Homo sapiens: one gene and its partner. The protein of the gene in region 2 interacts with the protein of the main gene of each other region in a biochemical or structural test. Each region holds a gene or a part of one and is shown on either strand. Other genes may lie near its edges.

Evidence for each region.
Region 1: the proteins of RUNX3 (region 2) and TLE1 interact in far-western blotting, tested with the Homo sapiens proteins (one study listed by BioGRID and IntAct).

Annotation. Positions count from the first base shown.
Region 1 is NC_000009.12:81,607,858-81,617,382, reverse strand, and holds part of TLE1 (transducin-like enhancer protein 1), read left to right. Parts: intron 1-683; coding exon 684-737; intron 738-1,248; coding exon 1,249-1,401; intron 1,402-3,861; coding exon 3,862-4,006; intron 4,007-4,989; coding exon of another isoform or gene 4,990-5,091; intron 5,092-5,423; coding exon 5,424-5,614; intron 5,615-7,086; coding exon 7,087-7,163; intron 7,164-9,525. UniProt on the Homo sapiens protein: Transcriptional corepressor that binds to a number of transcription factors. Inhibits NF-kappa-B-regulated gene expression. Inhibits the transcriptional activation mediated by FOXA2, and by CTNNB1 and TCF family members in Wnt signaling.
Region 2 is NC_000001.11:24,918,838-24,928,362, forward strand, and holds part of RUNX3 (runt-related transcription factor 3), read right to left. Parts: intron 8,894-9,525; coding exon 8,737-8,893; intron 580-8,736; exon of another isoform or gene 508-579; coding exon 403-507; intron 1-402. UniProt on the Homo sapiens protein: Forms the heterodimeric complex core-binding factor (CBF) with CBFB.

The DNA of each region.
Region 1 (9,525 bases), on a different chromosome or scaffold from region 2:
GCTACCTTGGAGTTTCCTCTGATTAGTAAATATGATAGCTTTATGAGGGGACAATGAGAGCCCTATTGCAGAATGCCATTGCCCTTCAAATATTGCCATCTATTATCTTTCCAAAAATACTTCAAGCTGATTGCTAAAAAGGTTTATTTTTAATTTACTTTTTTGTTACTTAAGAGAAAAAGATTGGGTTTTGTTTGCTTATTCGATCCACCAGCTAGCTTTCCAGGATTCTTTTTTTTTTTTTTTTTTGCATTAACTAGTAATCCCATGGGAAAATGGTTTCCCTTGAAATCATATGGAAAAACTCTGATATAAGGGTGTGCAGATCTCAAATTAAAGATTTCATCCCTCGAGAAATTCAGCTGTTGCAACCATTTACTGAGCTCTTACAATCTGCCAAGTATTTGCAACTTGCCATCACCTGTAAACAAGTTGTGATTGGATAGTTGGTTTGCTACTGCTACAGAATTCCTGCCTGAAGCTTTGCCTAGCCCCAGGTCAGATGAGAAGAGGGGGAAGATGATAATAATTACTAGGACTGGCAAACTGATAGAGAGCCTGCAGGCCTGTCCCAGGTAGTTTTTTTAGTCTGTCTGCTACCAGGAACTATAGAAAGAAATCTAACTGTGCCTCAAACCTATTCTTAGCTTTTAGTAAATGGCGTTAATGTTTCTTTTTTCCAGGACAGTGATGGTGACAAAAGCGATGACAACTTAGTTGTGGATGTGTCTAATGAGGTAACCATTCTTTTCATCAAAGTTTGTCTTCAGAATGATTTGAATAATGTTATGAAAAAAAACTAACAGTGAATGAAGGAAGTAGAGCCCCTCGGTGGGGGGACCTCTTGCAACTTCTTACATTAAGAAGTTAATGGTTGCTCATGTATGGAGCAATAATGGTCTAACTGACATAAAGTTTTATTTCCTTTAAAAAAAGATATTTCTCTAGACATTTTGAATGCCTAAGTTGGATGTTTGGCTCCCCTTTCCTTCCAGTGCCCTCTAGGCAAAGTTCTTAAGCATGAGGCACAAAGAGGGATATGACTGCGGGGTTTTTTTTTTATGGCATGTTTGCAGGTATGTTTGCCGACACCATATTGCTCATTTATAACATGGTGTTGGTCACCTTGTACAACCCCAACCCGAAGGACTTTCAGCTCTGTCCTTAAATTTAGAGAATGAGTGTGGAAAGGGAAAAGTCTGTCTGTTACAAGCTAAATCACGAAAACTTTTGATTATGCTTGTTGAGGACCCTTCTTCTCCGCGAGCAAGCCCTGCCCACTCGCCCCGGGAAAATGGAATCGACAAAAATCGCCTGCTAAAGAAGGATGCTTCTAGCAGTCCAGCTTCCACGGCCTCCTCGGCAAGTTCCACTTCTTTGAAATCCAAAGAAATGAGCTTGGTAGGTAAAGAAAACTGACACTTGCCTGTTTGGCAGTGTATTTTTCATTGTGGACTGGAGGACTCTGAAGTATTGGAAATGTGGGGGTTTTGCTGCTTGAGGGTTGTATTTTTAAGAGTTTAATAGTGAAACTCATCCTTCTGTTCTTTGTCACCATTCAGGGTTTACTTTTTCCCCTCAGTCATCTCTTTTCGGCCATGATTAGAGGGTGTACACGCATCTGTGTTCATTGCCTTCTTCTTCTTCTTCTTCTTTTTTTTTTTTTTTTTGAGACGGAGTCTCACTCCATCATCCAGGCTAGAGTGCAGTGGTGCAGTCTCAGCTCACTGCAGCCTCTGCCTCCTGGGTTCAAGCGATTCTCCTGCCTCTGCCCCCTGAGTAGCTGGGATTACAGGCGCGCGCGACCATGCCCAGCTAATTTTTTTTTTTTTTTTTTTGTATTTTTAGTAGAGATGGGGTTTTGCCATGTTTGTCAGGCTGGTCTTGAACTCCTGACCTCTTTGATCCACCCGCCTCAGCCTCCCAAAGTGTTGGGATTACAAGCCCAGCCTCATTGCCGTCTTACTTGGGGGATATGTTCTTGCCACACAGCTCTCTGAAACTTCCCAGTTGACAAATGGTTCAAACTTCTGAGATTCTTTTTTTTTTTTTCTGAGACGGAGTCTCACTCTGTTGCCCAGGCTGGAGTGCAGTGGCGTGATCTCGGCACACTGCAACCTCCACCTCCCAGGTTCAAACAATTCTCCTGCCTCAGCCTCCCCAGTAGCTGGGATTACAGGCACTCACCACCACGCCTGGTACCACCATACATTAGAGAGGGTGTACACGCATCCATGTTCATTGCCTTCTTCTTCTTCTTCTTTTTTTTTTTTTTTTTTTTTTTTTTTTTTTTTTTTTTTTGAGATGGAGTCTCACTCTGTCACCCAGGCTGGAGTGCAGTGGTGCAATCTTGGCTTATTACAGGGTTTCATGTTGGCCATGCTGGTCTTGAACTCCTGACCTCAGGCAATCTGCCTGCCTTGGCCTCCCAAAGTGCTGGGATTACAGGTGTGAGCCACCGCACCTGGCCTCAAACTTCCGAGATTCTTAAGTCTTCATTTTCTTAGGCTGGTCATTTACCTGGTAGACTGATCCTTAATATCGGGGCATGTCATAGAGCATGCCCCGATATTATGGAGCTCGTCAGATCAGTGATGCACAAAGGAGGCCCCAGGGGAAGCCAGGAACTGGTGCATCAGAACCCACTCATGTGGTCACTCATTCAATCAAACTTTGTAGACTGCATCATCTTTTAACAATAACATTTCATAACAACCCTTCAGTTAATCCTTACCTGGTCCCGGTAGGCATTATCCCATTTTACCGGTTGGGAGGGATGAATAACTTAACAAGGCTACACAGCCGTGGCTCATGATCCAAGGTCAGAAAGAGCTCTCTTTAGCCCGTGCTCTTTGCCACGCTGTAGTGGTTCTTGGACTGTGTTGTAAAGCACATGAAAGGTTGAAAGGCCAGAGAAGGTGCCCTGTAACCCTGTTACTGTCTGGTCTCCGAAAGGCCCCTTGCTGGTGTTCAGTCTCTGATCTGCACTGGTGGGTCCACTTTGGTTATGTAGGCAAGTGGGCAGTGACTCTTAACTCCAAAGTGTTGTTCTTTTTAGGCATATTGGTAAGGTTAGCCCTGGGGCTTTTGTCTCTGAGATACTGGCCCCACTCTCTCTCACCATTTGTCTCAATCCCAGGGCTACCTAAAAAGGAGACTTGAAAAGGGGTCTTCTGGCCTGGCGCGGTGGCTCAGGCCTGTAATCCCAGCACTTTGGGAGGCCAAGGCGGGTGGATCACGAGGTCAGGAGATCGAGACCATCCTGGCTAACATGGTGAAACCCCGTCTCCACTAAAAATACAAAAAAATTAGCTGGGCATGGTGGCGGGCACCTGTAGTCCCAGCTACTCAGGAGGCAGAGGCAGGAGAATGGCGTGAACCCGGGAGGCGGAGCTTGTAGTAGGCCGAGATTGCGCCACTGCACTCCAGCTTGGGTGACAGAGTGAGACTCCATCTCAAAAAAAAAAAAAAAAAAAGAAAAGAAAAGGGGTCTTCCTTGGACTTGGCGGCCAGGACATGTGTTTCTGAGTGCCTGGGAAATATTCTCTGGGTGGTCATCTTTCTAACTTGGCGTAGACCCAAAGTCCACAAGGCTGATGGAAAATACTTTTAAAATAAAATCTGCGGAGGAAGAAGTGTGATCATGTTCTGTGTCTCTAGCTCGAGTTTTAATTCTGGCAGGAAGAGGAAAGGTCAACATTTCTCGCTCACAAGTTAATGCTGTCAACATTGTGTGGATTTATGAAAATTGGCTGAGGGAGTAGCTAGAAGGTGCCCAGTGTCCCAGCTGCTGTTGTGATAAATTGTGTAATATGGCTTGGATTAAAAATAATACTCATTTAATTTGTTTAATGACACCAGCATGAAAAAGCCAGCACGCCTGTTCTGAAATCCAGCACACCAACGCCTCGGAGCGACATGCCAACGCCGGGCACCAGCGCCACTCCAGGCCTCCGTCCAGGTCTCGGCAAGCCTCCAGCCATAGACCCCCTCGTTAACCAAGCGGGTACAGCATCGCCTCTTGTTGTGCTTTGTTTGGTTTCTCCCATTCCCAGCTTGATTTGTTGTCTGTTAATGTTGTGACGCAATTGCCCTACAAATATGAAATGTACGTAGGGCCACCCTCCTTCCTATCTCTGAAAAAGCCATGATAAGAAACAGATGTTTGTCCTGGGGTTTCAGCAGCTGCACTCTGTTCAGTCTCCAACTGTTTACATTCAGCTTTTCTTTTTTTCTTGAGACGAAGTCTCGCTCTTGTCCCCCCAGGCTGGAATGCAATGGCGTGATCTCAGCTCACTGCAACCTCTGCCTCCTGGGCTTTGAGACGAAAGTCTTGCTCTTGTCCCCCCCAGGCTGGAATGCAATGGCGGGATCTCAGCTCACTGCAACCTCTGCCTCCTGGGTTCAAGCGATTCTCTTGCCTGAGCCTCCTAAAGAGCTGGGATTACAGGCGCCTGCCACCACGCCTGGCTAATTTTTGTATTTTTAGTAGAGACGGGGTTTCACCATGTTGGCCAGGCTGGTCTCAAACTCCTGACCTCAGGTGATCTGCCCATCTCGGCCTCCCAAAGTGCTGGGATTACAGGCGTGAGCTACCTTGCCCAGCCTTCTTTTAGTTTTAAATAATTCAAATCCTAGGGACTTCAGTAAAGTTTCTGATAATTATTTTGAACACAAGCCTCCCCACCTAACTAGCATTGTGCGTCTGACTTTGCTAATACTGGCTGAAACAGCGGTTTGGCTGGCCCAACCGTGCTCCTTGCAGACTATAGTTTGCTGGTTTTCTGCTAGGGGAGGCTTCAGGAATCAGTGGTCTCTCCTGCAGTAGAAATTAGGAGGGTTTCTCTGCGACTCCAGCCCTTAAAAAACTCATAATTTGCAACCTGATATTCCCCAGTGGGAAAGGAAAAAAGCAACAACCTGGGCCCAAAGGAAAATAGGCAACAGAATATTCCTCCTAAACCCGTGCTTTGGTTTACGTAAATCCAGGATTGGATTTTCATTTGGAATTGGTACCAGGGAATGGAAAGTTCGGACTGAAAGAGAAATCTTGGATTTTATCGAGAAAATCTTCTTTTGAGATTAAGTCAGGTAAACACTTGGTGCCTGTGCCTTGGTTTGCCCTCTGTAAATTGGGTAGGGAATACTCTTAATTCCCCTGGCTTCCTGGTGCTGCCATTTACACAAATGAGAAAATGTGTGGGTTGTGCTTCCCCTGGAGTCTTTTCTTTCCTGGAGATGCATTCGCTCTGGGGAAGGAGGGATCCAGTGTATAAATTGGAGGTGATTTTCCCCCTCCCCTAGAAGCCTTACCTCTTTCTCTCTCCCCATGAGTGACACTAACAAATGATGAGGCCAGACTTGCTGGTCAGGTTTGATGGAGTGGGTCAGTTGAATGATGTGCGGCTTGTGTTTCCTTTCAGCAGCTGGCTTGAGGACACCCCTGGCAGTGCCCGGCCCATATCCTGCTCCTTTTGGGATGGTCCCCCACGCTGGCATGAACGGCGAGCTGACCAGCCCAGGCGCTGCCTACGCCAGTTTACACAACATGTCGCCCCAGATGAGCGCCGCAGCCGCCGCGGCCGCCGTGGTGGCCTACGGGCGCTCCCCCATGGTAGGCCGCTGTCGGGTGGGCTGTGGTTGGGGTAGGAACGCTGCATGCTCCATTGAGCGCTGTCAGGTTTGGGGCCAGGCCTCTCTGCGCTGCGTGGGCAGGAGCAGCCAGCCCCACACACCTCGGAGACAAAGACGCCCAGTCTCCCAGCCACACACTCACCTTCCTCTTGTCAGCTTTCATCAGCATGCTGCTTCATTAAGTGAGGGCCAAACGTTTTTTGTTTTAGTGTTTTTGTGGATGAAAAAGGCAGTGTTTAGAAGCTCCTTCAGTGGTTCAGGGGACATCTGGTTTTCTCCCACCAAAGTCGATTTTTTTTATTTGAAGGCGATGAAATGATTCGAGTGGTTCACAGAAGCCTTTTCATTCATTTTCTTGAACTTTTTTTTTCTCATTAAACCTTAGGAAAAAATGTCTGAGAAGCCATCGCTTTCTCTTTCTATGCCTATGTTACACTTTAAACCCAATAGCATGACTTATATATAAGCAGTGGTCTCTGTAAACAGGTAGAATTCTGGACAGACTGAACCACGGGGGCAGGCTGTCTCTCGTCTGTTTGCCCTGCCTCTTGCCACTGTGCAAATGATCTAATTTTTGAACAAGAAGAAACAAAACTGCATTTGAAGGGTAGAATTGGCTCTGTGATCGTTGATTGCATTAAGGGTATAAAGTCCCACCGTCATTTCTCTTGGCTGTTTGAAAAATGTCCTCTACCTTTCTCTCTTGTCCCCTCTTCACATAGCATTACCTCCACTAGTTTGCGGTGACATTAAGATTCATTTGTTTTTCCTGATATTGCACTTGTAGGAGAGGCTGTGCAGTGGCGGGCAAAGTGTTGAAAGTAAGGTGGTCAGCTGAGAGACTACATGCTGTCCTTAACGCTGCACAAAGTAGGGAATCCATGTATGAATCCTTAAGCATTAAATTAGACCCATGTATGCAACTGGGGATGATTTTGTCCCTTGAGGACATTTGATAATATCTGGAGACACTTTTGATTATCATAACTGGGGGTGGGAGGGGGGGCAGGTATGGATTCCTCTTGGCACATAAACAGTAGGGGCCAGGAATGATATTCAGCATCCTGCAACGCCCAGGACGGCCCCTAACAAAGAAAAGAACTGTTTGGCCCCAAATGTCAATAGTGCTGAGGTTGAGAAATCCTAATACAACATACTGCTCTGTGAACTTGCTTGCAAGTCTAAGGGAAGTATTTACCATGGGGAAGTGGTTCTCAGTGCACAAATAGATCACATCTCCTCTCTACCTCCCAAAAAGGAAGTGGGTCTTGTGGCGTTCAGGGGTGCTTATATTACCTCTTGCATAGTAATTAAAAAGAAAAACACTAGGCCATGTTACTGTTCCCATTTATGTTGCTTTGGGGATCTGTGAGTTTCTAATGAACAGTATTGATGTTCACAAAGTGCCTGCTGCAATAAACTGAGTCTGCAATGCCTTATTTTTGTTTCCAGGTGGGGTTTGATCCTCCCCCTCACATGAGAGTACCTACCATTCCTCCAAACCTGGCAGGAATCCCTGGGGGGAAACCGTAAGTACCTCAAAGACCTTGGTTTTGTTTTAAAGGTGGTTACTCAGTCATTGGTATTAGCAGACTAGAATTCCAAAGGGAGTACAGGCTTGGGCGTTTCCAAGGAGATTTCTGGTGTCTTTTCCTGAGGAGTGTTAACACTTTCTATAAATAGGCAGCTTGTAGGTGTCATGCCTCTGTCTTCTCCCTGGGGGTGATCTCCTTAGTTATTTCTGGAGAGAAACTGTTGGAGATGAGGACGAGGTGGGAGGAAAGAGCTGGAGGTGGCTGGCCCTCTTCGCCTGACCCCTCAGAAAGCTGCTCTGCTCTGCTCTGCCATTTGGCTAGAGGGCAGCTGCTGGAGATTCCCAACAGTGCTGTGCTGTGGGCAGTCAGCTGTCACGAACTCTTGCAGGCTTAGACACTTTTTTGAAATGTGTCATCTCTTTACTCAGCTCTGTGCCACCTTTTTCTTATTTTGGTGGAAACAAGAGTTATTTGAAGGGTAGGTTGTGTTGGATGCCAGCACCCCAGGTTTACCCCCAAGTAAAGTTTTGATGAGTGCTCCAAGAGATCTAGAATTATAAAAAGCAAAGTGGCTTCGTGGGGAAGCAGGAAAAGTTAATGTTCATTTTGTGTCCAGTGCACAAAAGAATTGGAATTTAAAAAAACTCAATTGGCTATTCTTCCTGGGTCACTTTAAAAATTGCTTCATTTTCATAATGTTAGTAATTAGAAGTGTGATTTCAAAGAATTGCTAAAGTTCTCAAATTTTTTAAACAGCAGAATTGAAATGTGAAGGTCTGTTTTGCTTAGCAGCAAAACTCTGCCTTCTCCTAAGATAGAAAATAGCAGAGGCCAGGCGCAGTGGCTCACGCCTATAATCCTAGCACTTTGGGAGGCTGAGGCGGGTGGATCACCTGAGGTCGGGGGTTCGAGACCAGCCTGGCCAATGTGGCGAAACCCCGTCTCTACTAAAAATACAAAAATTAGCTGGGCGTGGTGGTATGTGCCTGTAATCCCAGCTACTCGGGAGGCTGAGACCAGAGAATCGCTTGAACCTGGGTGGCGGAGGTTGCAGTGAGTGAAGATCATGCCACTGCACTCCAGCCTGGGTGACAGAAGGAGACTCTGTCTCAAAAAGGAAAGGAAAGGAAAGGAGAGGAGAGGAAAGGGGAGGGGAGGGGGCAGGTCTTTGCAAATGTTGTTTTTTTTCTTTTTCTTTAAGGCAGCAGATCTTTGCAAATGTTGTTGCTTTTTTTTCTTTTTCTTTTTCTTTCTTTCTTTCTTTTTTTTATTATTTTTGAGACGGAGTTTCACTCGTTGCCGAGGCTGGAGTGCAGTGGTGCGATCTCGGCTCACTGCAACCTCTGCCTCCCGGGTTCAAGCAATTCTTCTGTCTCAGCCTCTCGAGTAGCTGGGATTATGGGTGCATGCCACTATGCCTGGCTAATTTTTGTATTTTTAGTAGAGATGGGGTTTCATCATATTGGTCAGGCTGGTTTTGAACTCCTGACCTCAGCTGATCTGCCCTGCTCAGCCTCCCAAAGTGTTGCGATTACAGGCGTGAGCCACCGTGCCCAGCTGATTTTGTTTCAATAAAGGTACTGGTGCTACATGTCTTAGGCCTTCAGTTTGTTTTTGTCATACCCTTGCCTTCATGTGGTTGCTTTCAGCTTTTATCAGTACGTCACTTGCATGTCACATTAGTGAGTTTTTTATTTTTAGAAACAGGGTCTTGCTCTGTTGCCCAGGCTGAAATGCAGTGGCACAATCACAGCTCACTGCAGCCTCGACCTCCTAGGCTCCAGCCATCCTCCTGCCTTGGCTTCCTGAGTAGCTAAGACTACAGGCGTGTGTCACCATACCTGGCCAATTTTTAAATTTATTTTTGTAGTGACAGGGTCTCCCTATGTTGCCCAGGCTGGTCGTTGGGGCACTTGTGAGCATTTCCTATCTGTGGTTGCCAGCAGTGTTGTAGCTATTGTATTCCACTGATTGGTGAGTGGATAAGGGGCAAACCGGTAAAGTTGTGAGGCCCTGGCTTCACACAGTCCTCCTGCCTTGGCCTCCCAAAGTGCTTGGATTACAGGCATGAGCCACCACGCCCAGCATGGTGAATTATTTTGAGCAGTCCACTCAGCTGCCCGGTCATCCTTGTGTGGTTTTGATAAGAGCCTTGTTTCAAATAAACCACCAGCATGAGATAAAATTGAATTTCTTACCCTGTCACCTGCTTTTTAGGAAAGCCGATTCCCATTGCTCTACTTTTCATATATTATAATATCTGTTTCACAATAATTTGATTCATTATGAAATGAGGTTTTTGTCTACACTAGGAATCAGTAGCAATGTTAGGAATTTATGATGACCTCTGTGCCCA
Region 2 (9,525 bases):
CCTGACTTTTGATCACTCCTGCCCTCCATGCATCCCTCAGCCACCCGCAGAGAAGCTGGGGGCAGAGTAAAGCAAGCCTGGCTCAACCTCCACCCAGAAACACACAAGCACCCGACAAATGCCATATCTGAAAGCTTTCTCCATCCTTTTCCTTTCCTTGACTCCCTCAGTAGTCTCCATGGACAGTCATCTCCACTCCCAGCCTCCTCGCTGGCCTCCCACGGTCTCAGGCTAAGCCCAGAGGGTTTAGGGGTTTGCCAGCAGGCACGCAGTGTGTGGGGGCACAGAGCCAAGGACTGCAACCCCCCGAGGAGGGCTCCATCTGTCTGACCTAGCTGCTGTCCTTCCCGCACTGGACCCTCCTCCCCCGCGCAGGGGCTCAGGGGGCTCGGTGGCACTTACGTCTGGGCTCCCGGGGTCCGTCCACGGTCACCTTGATGGCTCGGTGGTAGGTCGCCACTTGGGTGGGGTTGGTGAACACAGTGATGGTCAGGGTGAAACTCTTCCCTGGGGAGAGTGGGGAATAGAGGCAGGTGGTTGGCACCTGGAGCTTCCACAATACCCTGCTCTCCCACCTGTATCTACCCCTGGAAGCCCCTAACTGTCAAGAAGGGGCACTCTGTCCTCTTTGAACATGGGCAGAAGATAGGGCTCTGGGTGAAGTTCAAGCTCTTGGGCTTGGCATTCAAGGCCCCTGGGGGTCTGACGCCAACTTTGTCAACCCCCCGCCCCATGCCGTGACCACCCTGGCTCATGTTCCCCTCTTCTTGGCCTTTCTGCTGTCTCTTCTATTCAGAGACCCACACGATTTTGTGGTGGGGAGCAGGATGGGTATATTCTATTTTCTGAAAGTAATTGGTGATCTTTGTAGAAAAATTCAAGAACATACAAAATATAAATAAAGAAGAAAAGACACCCCCCCCCCACGGTTCCACTAGCTGGAGATAGACACCGTTACCATTTGGTGTTTTCCCTTTCAGCTCTTTTTGTATGGGTTTGTATATTTACACAGTCGCAGTGGTACTAAAATACAGATTTTCATACTGTTTTTTTTTTCATTTAACCTCACATCAGAAGCACTTTCCCACGTCATTAAAACTCCATAAACTTCGTTTTTAATGGCTGCAAAATATTTCAACTCAAGGAAGCCTCCTCATCTTTTATTTATCTACCTCCTTACTCTCGGGTATTTACATCGTTGCTAATTTCTTATTGATGTGTGCAGCTGGAGCTGAAAAAGGACTGATTTGGGAGCTGCAGACATTTCTTCTGTAGACACAACTGTTATTTCCAGAATGTTCTATTTTTAGATAGACATTTGGCTCCAAAGTCTCCATTCAAAATTCCTGAGAGGGGAAAAAACTTTTAAAATACTACTTTTTTTTTTTTTTACCATTTAAAATAAAATGAAAGTGACCTTCTGTTTATAAAAATCTTTGTCTGCATCTCTGCTTATTTCCTTAGAAGAGATTCCAAGAAGCGGTGAGTGATTTCACGGCAGCAGAGGGTTGGGACATATTACGGGCGCGGATCCCTCTTGGAGTGAGATGACTCTCCGGAGAGATTTAGTCGTCACCCTCGCGTGTGAGGCTGCGTCACACCCCAGGGATGTGTCTATCAAGATGGAAGATCTTTTACACGCTCTTGATTTTGTTTGCCTTTTTTTCTATTACTAGTGAGAATGAAACTTTTTATATGATTATTATCCATCATAATCCAACACAAATTACTGCTTCATGTTCTTTTACTTTCCTGTGAAGGTTTTAGTGCCTTTTAAAAATTGCTATATATTAAGCTTGTTAATACTTTCCATGCTGTATTTGTGGCCATCAGTTTCCCCGGGCACAGGCCTGCACATTTTGCCTTCACACGCTGGGTGGTTTTTCATTTTCACTTCTATTTCTCGTTCTTCTATCGTTTTATGTTCAGACGGGTTTCTCCGTGTAGAAAGCAGTTTATGAAGATTTACTTTCGACAGTCTTCTCTCTACTTTCTACAGTGAATTCTCTGATGTGTCTGGGAGTTTGGGGGTCTGGGTAAGAGTCCTCCTCTCACCCTATTCTCTATTACGATCCACAGCCTCATGCTTTATGAGATTGGTGGCCGGGAGCGGGGGAGATTTGCGGATCCCCCAAGCCAGACTTTATCCCCCTATCCCTGCCTCTGGATCCCACGTACAGGCCTGGGAACTCCCTGTGGGTAGGGGCCAATGGTCTCGCACTCTCACCTGTACCCCAGGGCTGGCACAGGATGGTCAAGGAGAGAGGCTGCCCAAGCGCATCCCTCTGGTGTCCCCCTGACACGCCTCCAAAGTGAGCAGGTAGGTTTCAACAGCCCCACGTTGCAGGTGGGAGATGAAGCTCAGGGTGGAGACCAGTATCTCACAGTTCTCTTTGCATGGCCGGGTACTTGTTAGTCAACTGATCAAGTGAAAATTCTAGCCCCAGAGGCAGGAGAATCCGGAACAAAATTAAACCAGCCAGGCTGCCAGGAGCCATGCCACAGGACCCAAGGCCCTCTGAGACACCAGGGGGAATTTAAAGCTCAAGACCCACTGAGTGTCACTCCAGCTGGGAAATGAGGGGCTTCTCTGGAAGCCTTTTCCTAAGCCAGTCGGCTGAGGCAGGGATAGAAATTCTGACTGCACTTGCCCCCGGAGCCCCAGGTCAGAACAGACCTGGTCTCCCACTCTCAGGTCACAGGGGCCACTTTGTATGATTTCTGGAAGCAGAAGTGCAGATGGTCTAGGGAAGTGCCAGGCAGATGCCTCGGGCTCCCTGCCCGACCCCTCCTACTGCCTTTCCTCACTCTGAGGTCATTTCTCTGCTGGACCTCTTTCTCCTCCAACCAGCCCAGCACTCTCCTGGGGTCCCTGAGCCTCTGACCCTGCCAGCATTGTCCAGCACCTTCTTGGTTATGACGGGGAGTTTAGGCAGACAGCCCAGAGCCCTAGGGGCCAGACTGGAGACACGGAGGACTAATGGGTCCCAGTGCCCTGCCACAGGGCCCCGGGCCCACAGCAGCATTTGAAAGCTTACTAAAACCCTCCTTCAGGTCGCCCACCTTCTCAGTCAGGCCTTCCCTGGTCACTTTATCTGAAGTAGGCATTTTTAATTTTAATTAATTTTTTTGAGACAAGGTCTTGCTCTGTCACCCAGGTTGGAGTGCAGTGGCATGATCATAGCTCACTGCAGCCTGGACCTCCCGGGCTCAAGTGATCCTCCTGTCTCAGCCTCCTGAGTAGCTGGGACAACAGGTGAGCGCCACCATGCCCGGCTATTTCTTTTTTTCCCTTCCTTCTTTTCCTTCCCTCCCTTCCTTCCTTCCTTTCCTTTCTTTTCTTTCTTTCCTTTCTTTCTTTTTTTTTTTTTTCAAGCTTTTACTATGTGCCCAGGCTGGTCTTGAACTCCTGGGCTCAAGTGATCCTCCTGCCTTGGCCTCCCAAAGTGTTGGGATTACAGTCGTAAACCACTACACCTGGAAGGCATTTTTAACTTGGCTCCGTAGAGTTGAATGAGCCTGAGAACTAGGGTAGGAAAAAATTACAATTGTATTGTCCCTAACCTCTAACTGAAATTTAGCATCACTCTCAAGTACGAGCGTAGGCAACAAACCACAGAGGTATTATCAGCCGTACCTGTGACCTTGTCACCAACAGACGTCACAGATACTTACATATCACATTACAGTTGCTGCAGATTGCTCTAAATATCTTTTATGCTCATCACAACTTCAAAACCATGGTTGTCATTAGGCCCAATGCTAGATCTTATTTAATACATTGAATAAAGCAGCACATTTACCACAATTTTTAAAGTATTTTGCTATGTTTTAATAGAAATGGTTTCTATTGTAATACTTTGTATTTGATTTTATACCTTAAAAATATCATTGTTCTGAGAAAGGTGTGCGGGCTTCACCAGCTATCAGAGGGGCCCACAGGGCAAAAAAAAAAAAAAAAAAAAAAAAAGCGCTAAGCAGCTCAACCTGAAGTATCACAGGCCCTACCACTCCCTTTCTCTATTCCCTGCACCTGCTGGAATTTTCTCACAATGCATATGCTTTTAATAATCCATCTACTCATTTTGTCTCCTTCTACTAGATTATAACCTCCCCAGGGGCCCAAGTTTTTGTCTTGTTCATGCAGTGTCTCCAGCCCCTAGGACGGCATCCGGCACAGAGTAGGTGCTCAACAACATTTGTTAAATAAATTAAGGGCAGAGATAATGGCTCCCATTTTGCACACAGGTACTAACGTCCCGCTCCTGAGAAGTGAGAAGCCCCCACCCATACCAGGTAGCAAACCACATGCCACCCCTGAGGTCACCAGCACTCCTCGGCCGCTTCCACCAGCTTCCACGCCTGTCACCACCCCTCCCAGGTACAAAGGAGAGGAGTGTGGGGCCTAAGAGGAGGAGTGAGAGGGAGGGGCAGGAGTCCTGGACCTCGGGAGACAGGGAGCCTGGGGAGCAGGGGTGGGAGAAAGCTGTCTCCCTGAGTGCCCCTCAGCTACCCCGGCCCTGCCCAGCTCTCTCTCTGCCTGGCAGTGGCAAACCCATCCATCCCTCTCTCTCAGCCTCTAGATATAACTCTGTGCAGGAGTCCCAGGCAAACCTGCAATCCATCAGGAGCCCAGGAAGTGTAAACCCAGGCTCTCTGAGGGCTGGCCCTGGTTGCAGGGGAGAAGTCTTGGTCTGGGAAATGGGTTTCCTTTAGGGCTCCAGAAACTCCTCCAGGACCCATCATCAACCAGCCGGGGTGGCAGCAGGGCCTCAGGCAAGTCCTTGAGCATTCTCTGCCTGGGTTCCTATGTGTATAAGGTCCCCGCCCCACCCACAGGAGCTGCATGGGTGGGGGGAGGGGACGTGTCTCAGTCTCAGGGGACCTCGGGGTTTTCTCAGCTTCAGCCAAGAAGCCATTCATCTCTCCCCCAACCAGCGGTTCCCCTCAGCCTGCACCGGCACACTGCACCCCGAATCTCTGTCGACACACAGTTGCTTTTTAACCAGTTGATCACAGCTCGAGAGCTCATGTGCTTTTCATTTTCACTTAGGCCAGTGGCCGCCTGCTAGAGGGGCATTTTTGGGATTTGTGGTGGCGTGTGGTCAACATAGTGTTGGGGTGGCACTGCCAGCGTTAGGGGTGGGGTGCGTGTATGTGGTGGGGGATGCCAGCACCCAACGCTGCCCAGGGTGGTGAAGATTCAATTCTTCCTGGGAGGGAAAAACTTGCTTATAAAAGTTCTCTGGCTGGTCGCAGTGGCTCATGCCTGTAATCCCAACACTTTGAGAGGCTGAGGCAGGAGGATCGCTTGAGTCCAGGAGTTCAAGACCAGCCTGAGCAACACAGTGAACAACACCCCCATCTCTACAACAAATAATTTTAAAAAATCAGCTGAGCATGGTGGCGCATGCCTATAGTCCCAGCTATTGAGGTGGGAGGACTGCTTGAGACCAGGAGGTTGAGACTGCAGTGATCGCACCACTGCACCCTGGCCTGGGCGACAGAGCGAGACCTTGTCCCAAAAAAAAGTAAAAGAAAAAAAAATTATCTGAGTCATGAACCTAACTCAGTTTTACATAAAACAAGGGTTTTTTTTGTACTTTTAATATCTACTGAATTTTCCAGAAGGAAAGACAGTTCTTTTTTTTTTTTTAATTTTGTTCAGCGCTTTGCCAACAGGTGTTGACAACTTCAGAAAGTCATGGTATTGGCAGCAAGGCCAGGTTCAGATTGAGCCCTGCCACCCTGCCTGTTCCCTCTGCTGTGGGCTTCTGCATGGAGGGCATTCGTCCACCTCATGGAGTCCTGTGGCCCCAACGTTTACATATTCAAATCAGTGTTTTATTATAAATTACTTTCCCTTTTTTTCTCCATCATAGCTATGGAATAACATAGTTTGCAACTGCATGTAAATAGGTAGGTTTCATTATTTATACATTTCAACGTAGAATAGTAAGGCTTGATATAAAATATGTATTGTAAGAAAGGCTCCTCGTGTCTGGCAGGGCAGGGACCTCAGCCCTAATCACTGCAGGAGACAGCAATGACCTGGTTTTCCTCCCTTCCTTTTCTTGGTTCACACCTTCAGCCCTGTTGTTAAGAGCTCTGTGGTGTTACTGGGTGCGTGTCTTTCATGGAAAGCCATCTTCCTGGAATTCAGACAGAATGTAGAACTAAAAATTGAGGCAACAAGCAGAGGTTTCCATCAGACTTCTTAGTTCTGGCAGAAGTCAAGAGACCCAGGCAAGGGTTCTGGGTCCCAACCCCCAGTCTTAACTCCCAAAGTGTCCCATCTCCTAAAGTGGCCCAGATTGTCACTGTCAACCACTGACTGTTCTCTCAGGTGGGAATTTCCCAGTCAGCAGGATGGGCACTGCAGATGTGTGTCTGCATGCCAGCGGACCCGGCACCCTCCTTCCTCCCTGCCAACCGCCTCCACCTCTCCCACTCAGCAGTTCACACCTTCTGGGTTTCCCCCACCCCCGCCCAAACCACACAGTAATCAGAGAATCAGTGGCTGTCACCGCTCAAAGGGACCTCAAAGTCCTCCTCCAGTCCCAGGCATTTGAAGTAACAAAATCTCTAACATGTATCCAGCTCTCAATATGCGCCAGCTGATACACTTGTGTCAATTTCCCTAACCTTCCCAAAATCTCATGAGGTAGGTACCATTATCATCCCCATCTCACAGATGAGGAAACTGAGGCACAGAGTGGTTAAGTCATTTGCCCAATGTCATCCAGCAAGTCATTAGCAGAGCTGGGACTCAAACGCAGGGTGGCTGATACTAGAATGCAGGCTCTCAAAGACCTCGAGCCTCTGAAGGCTGAACGCCTTAGCCACAGTTCCTCAGACATCGGAACTCCTCCTCAGATCACTTCCTGCCTCCCAGGACCACTGAGACTGGTTATGGACCTCTGAGAGGAGATGGATGAGAGAATGGTTTATAAACTCAGCCTCTTGCATCTCCCAGAGCCACAGTCCCAGCCTCGGCCATTCCTGCTACAAGGACAAGCTCCCAACCAACGCCTTGGAAACCCATTTCCCTCCCTGCAGGCCTGGGGAGGGGGGCTCAAGGTCTGTGGGCATGAAAACCCCTAAAAAAATCATTCTCAGTGTGCAGAATGGCCAGACAAGGTCTCGGTAACTCAGAAAATCGTCGTCTCTTCTCTTTCTCTCGCTTCCCAGGAGAGAGAGTGGGAAGGGAGAATCAAGTTCCTGATGCCTTGCTGGGCTCCCAGATCGACAGCACCTTCTGCCCGCCTCGCAACAGGCAGCAGCTATAGTGCTCCTGACACATACCTGGGCTAGCAGACCTGGCCACTGCCCCGCAGTCAGCAGAGCTCATCAGCCTTGTCTGCCACCGACCAAGGACCAGTGACTGTCCTCTCAGGGTTGGGATTAAGTCGCAAAGGGTTTGAGAGATTGGGGATGACAAAAGGGACTTGGAGACTAATTAGGAGCAGCAATGAAAGCTTAATTCATAAAAGCAAACATTTTCCATCCATCAACCTGCAACCAGTTAAGGGCACCGTTTGAAAGAAATCTGTGTGTGGGGAAGGGAGCCAACAGGAACAGGAAATGTTTGAAAGAATGTAAACTATTTCAGTTTCATAAAAAGTAACAAGTAAACAGTTATTACATGCAAATAATGTCCTGGTTTTAATTAATGCTGAAAAGTCAAAATATGGCTGACATTTGTATGTATACATCGAACGGCTGGAAAGGAAAAAATGGTGCCCAGATGCCTGTTTCAGAGCGGGGCTGGCAGCTCAGAGGGAACTAGAACCTTGAGAAGGTCCTGTTTATTGGTGATGAAAAGCACGGTTCTGCTTCAGCCACTTCAGCCTGCTGTGGAGTTGGGGAGCAGAGGGAACCCAGCTTACTTCTTAACAAAGCTAGAGGCGGGCCTGGTGCTTGGGAAGGGCGACTCCCACTTCAGCCACTTCTCGTAGGCAGGCTGGTCTTAAAGGGCCAGTGGACCCTCAGGCCTCCGTTCCACAGGGGCAGGGTTTCCAGGACTTTCCCATCCAGGAGTTAAGTGATGATGGGTTTCAGGTCCCAGAAGCCTCCCATTCAACAGCCCCCCACCCCCGTCCCGCCTTCCTTCTGCTGCTCAAGGTCGGTCAGACAGGCAGGGTGGCACACCCGCCTTGACTCTGGGGCAGGAGATGGCAGCCTTCGAGCTGTGCTTTCCAACATTCAGCTGCGTTAGCTTCCGTTCTAGACCACCTAGGGCTCAAAGGCGCTGGGAAACTGGGTCTGGGAGACCACAGCTGGAGAGACAGCCTCAGAGTGTGGGGGATATTCTGCCCCCTATGGAGAGAGTGGCTGGGGTGCTTGGGCCCCACAGATCAGGGACTTGTCCTGCAACCGCCTTGCTGAAAGACCTATAAGCTCCCTTTTTGAGCTTGTTAATCCACCATCTCCTGCCAGCATTTTTTGTGAGACCAGGTGTGCTTAACCGGGAAAGAGGGGGTGGCATGAACGGTTTCAGGAGTTGGTAAACCCTAGAAACTGGGAGAAAATTGTCTTTTTCTGGCAAGAGACCATAACTTTCCTCACCTCCTCAAAGCGATCTGTAATATCCTACAGGATTACAAATTGCTGTTTTTAGACAGAGCTGCATCTGGAGACCTGTTTTTCGGGATTCTAAGGCCCCTCTTTCAACCTCCTTCCCTGCTGCCCCTGCCATTGCCAATGCTGAAATGGCGAGGCCTCCCTTCCACTTACCTCGCCCACTGCGGCCCACGAAGCGAAGGTCGTTGAACCTGGCCACCTGGTTCTTCATGACGGCCGAGGCATTGCGCAGCTCAGCGGAGTAGTTCTCGTCATTGCCTGCCATCACAGTCACCACCGTACCATCCGGCACGTCCCCCAATGCCACCACCTGAAGACACGGGGCGGGGGGATGCAGGGGGACAGCTTAGAAAGGAAGAGGGTGACCAGGGAAAGGAGGGGAGGGGCTGGGCTGGGCAGCTCCCCCAGGTCCCAGGCACACTGAGTATTTCTCCAATGCAGGGTGGAGAAGAGGCTTAAAAACAATAAAGACCTTCCCCCAAATATCACGAAAACAAGAAGATGGAATCTCGAGCTTCCACACCAAAATCCTAGATCAACTGCTTACATAAACTGTGTCCCAAGAAATCATCCTTTCAATGAAATCTAAGCCAGAGCTGTGAATCAGCTCAGTCACTATGATGTGGGGTGCAGTTCCCCTGTTGTCTTCGGCTGCAGCGAAAGAGGAATCAACATGCTCCTAGCAACGAAGTCTCCAAATGAGAAAGAGTAACAACAATAATAACAACAGGGCTGCTACCCCCACTCAATTTATGCAAGAGCTGTTTAGGGCATGAAATTTGGCCCTGAAATGTGGACCAGGCCCAGTTTATTGGCCTCTGCAGAGCCTAAATTCGTTATGCAGAGAAAATGCAGAATGCAAAACTCACTGGTGTTTTGAAAAAGGCCACCAGAAAACCCCTTTAAAGTGAGAGTGGGGCTTTTGATAATGGAAGGATGCAC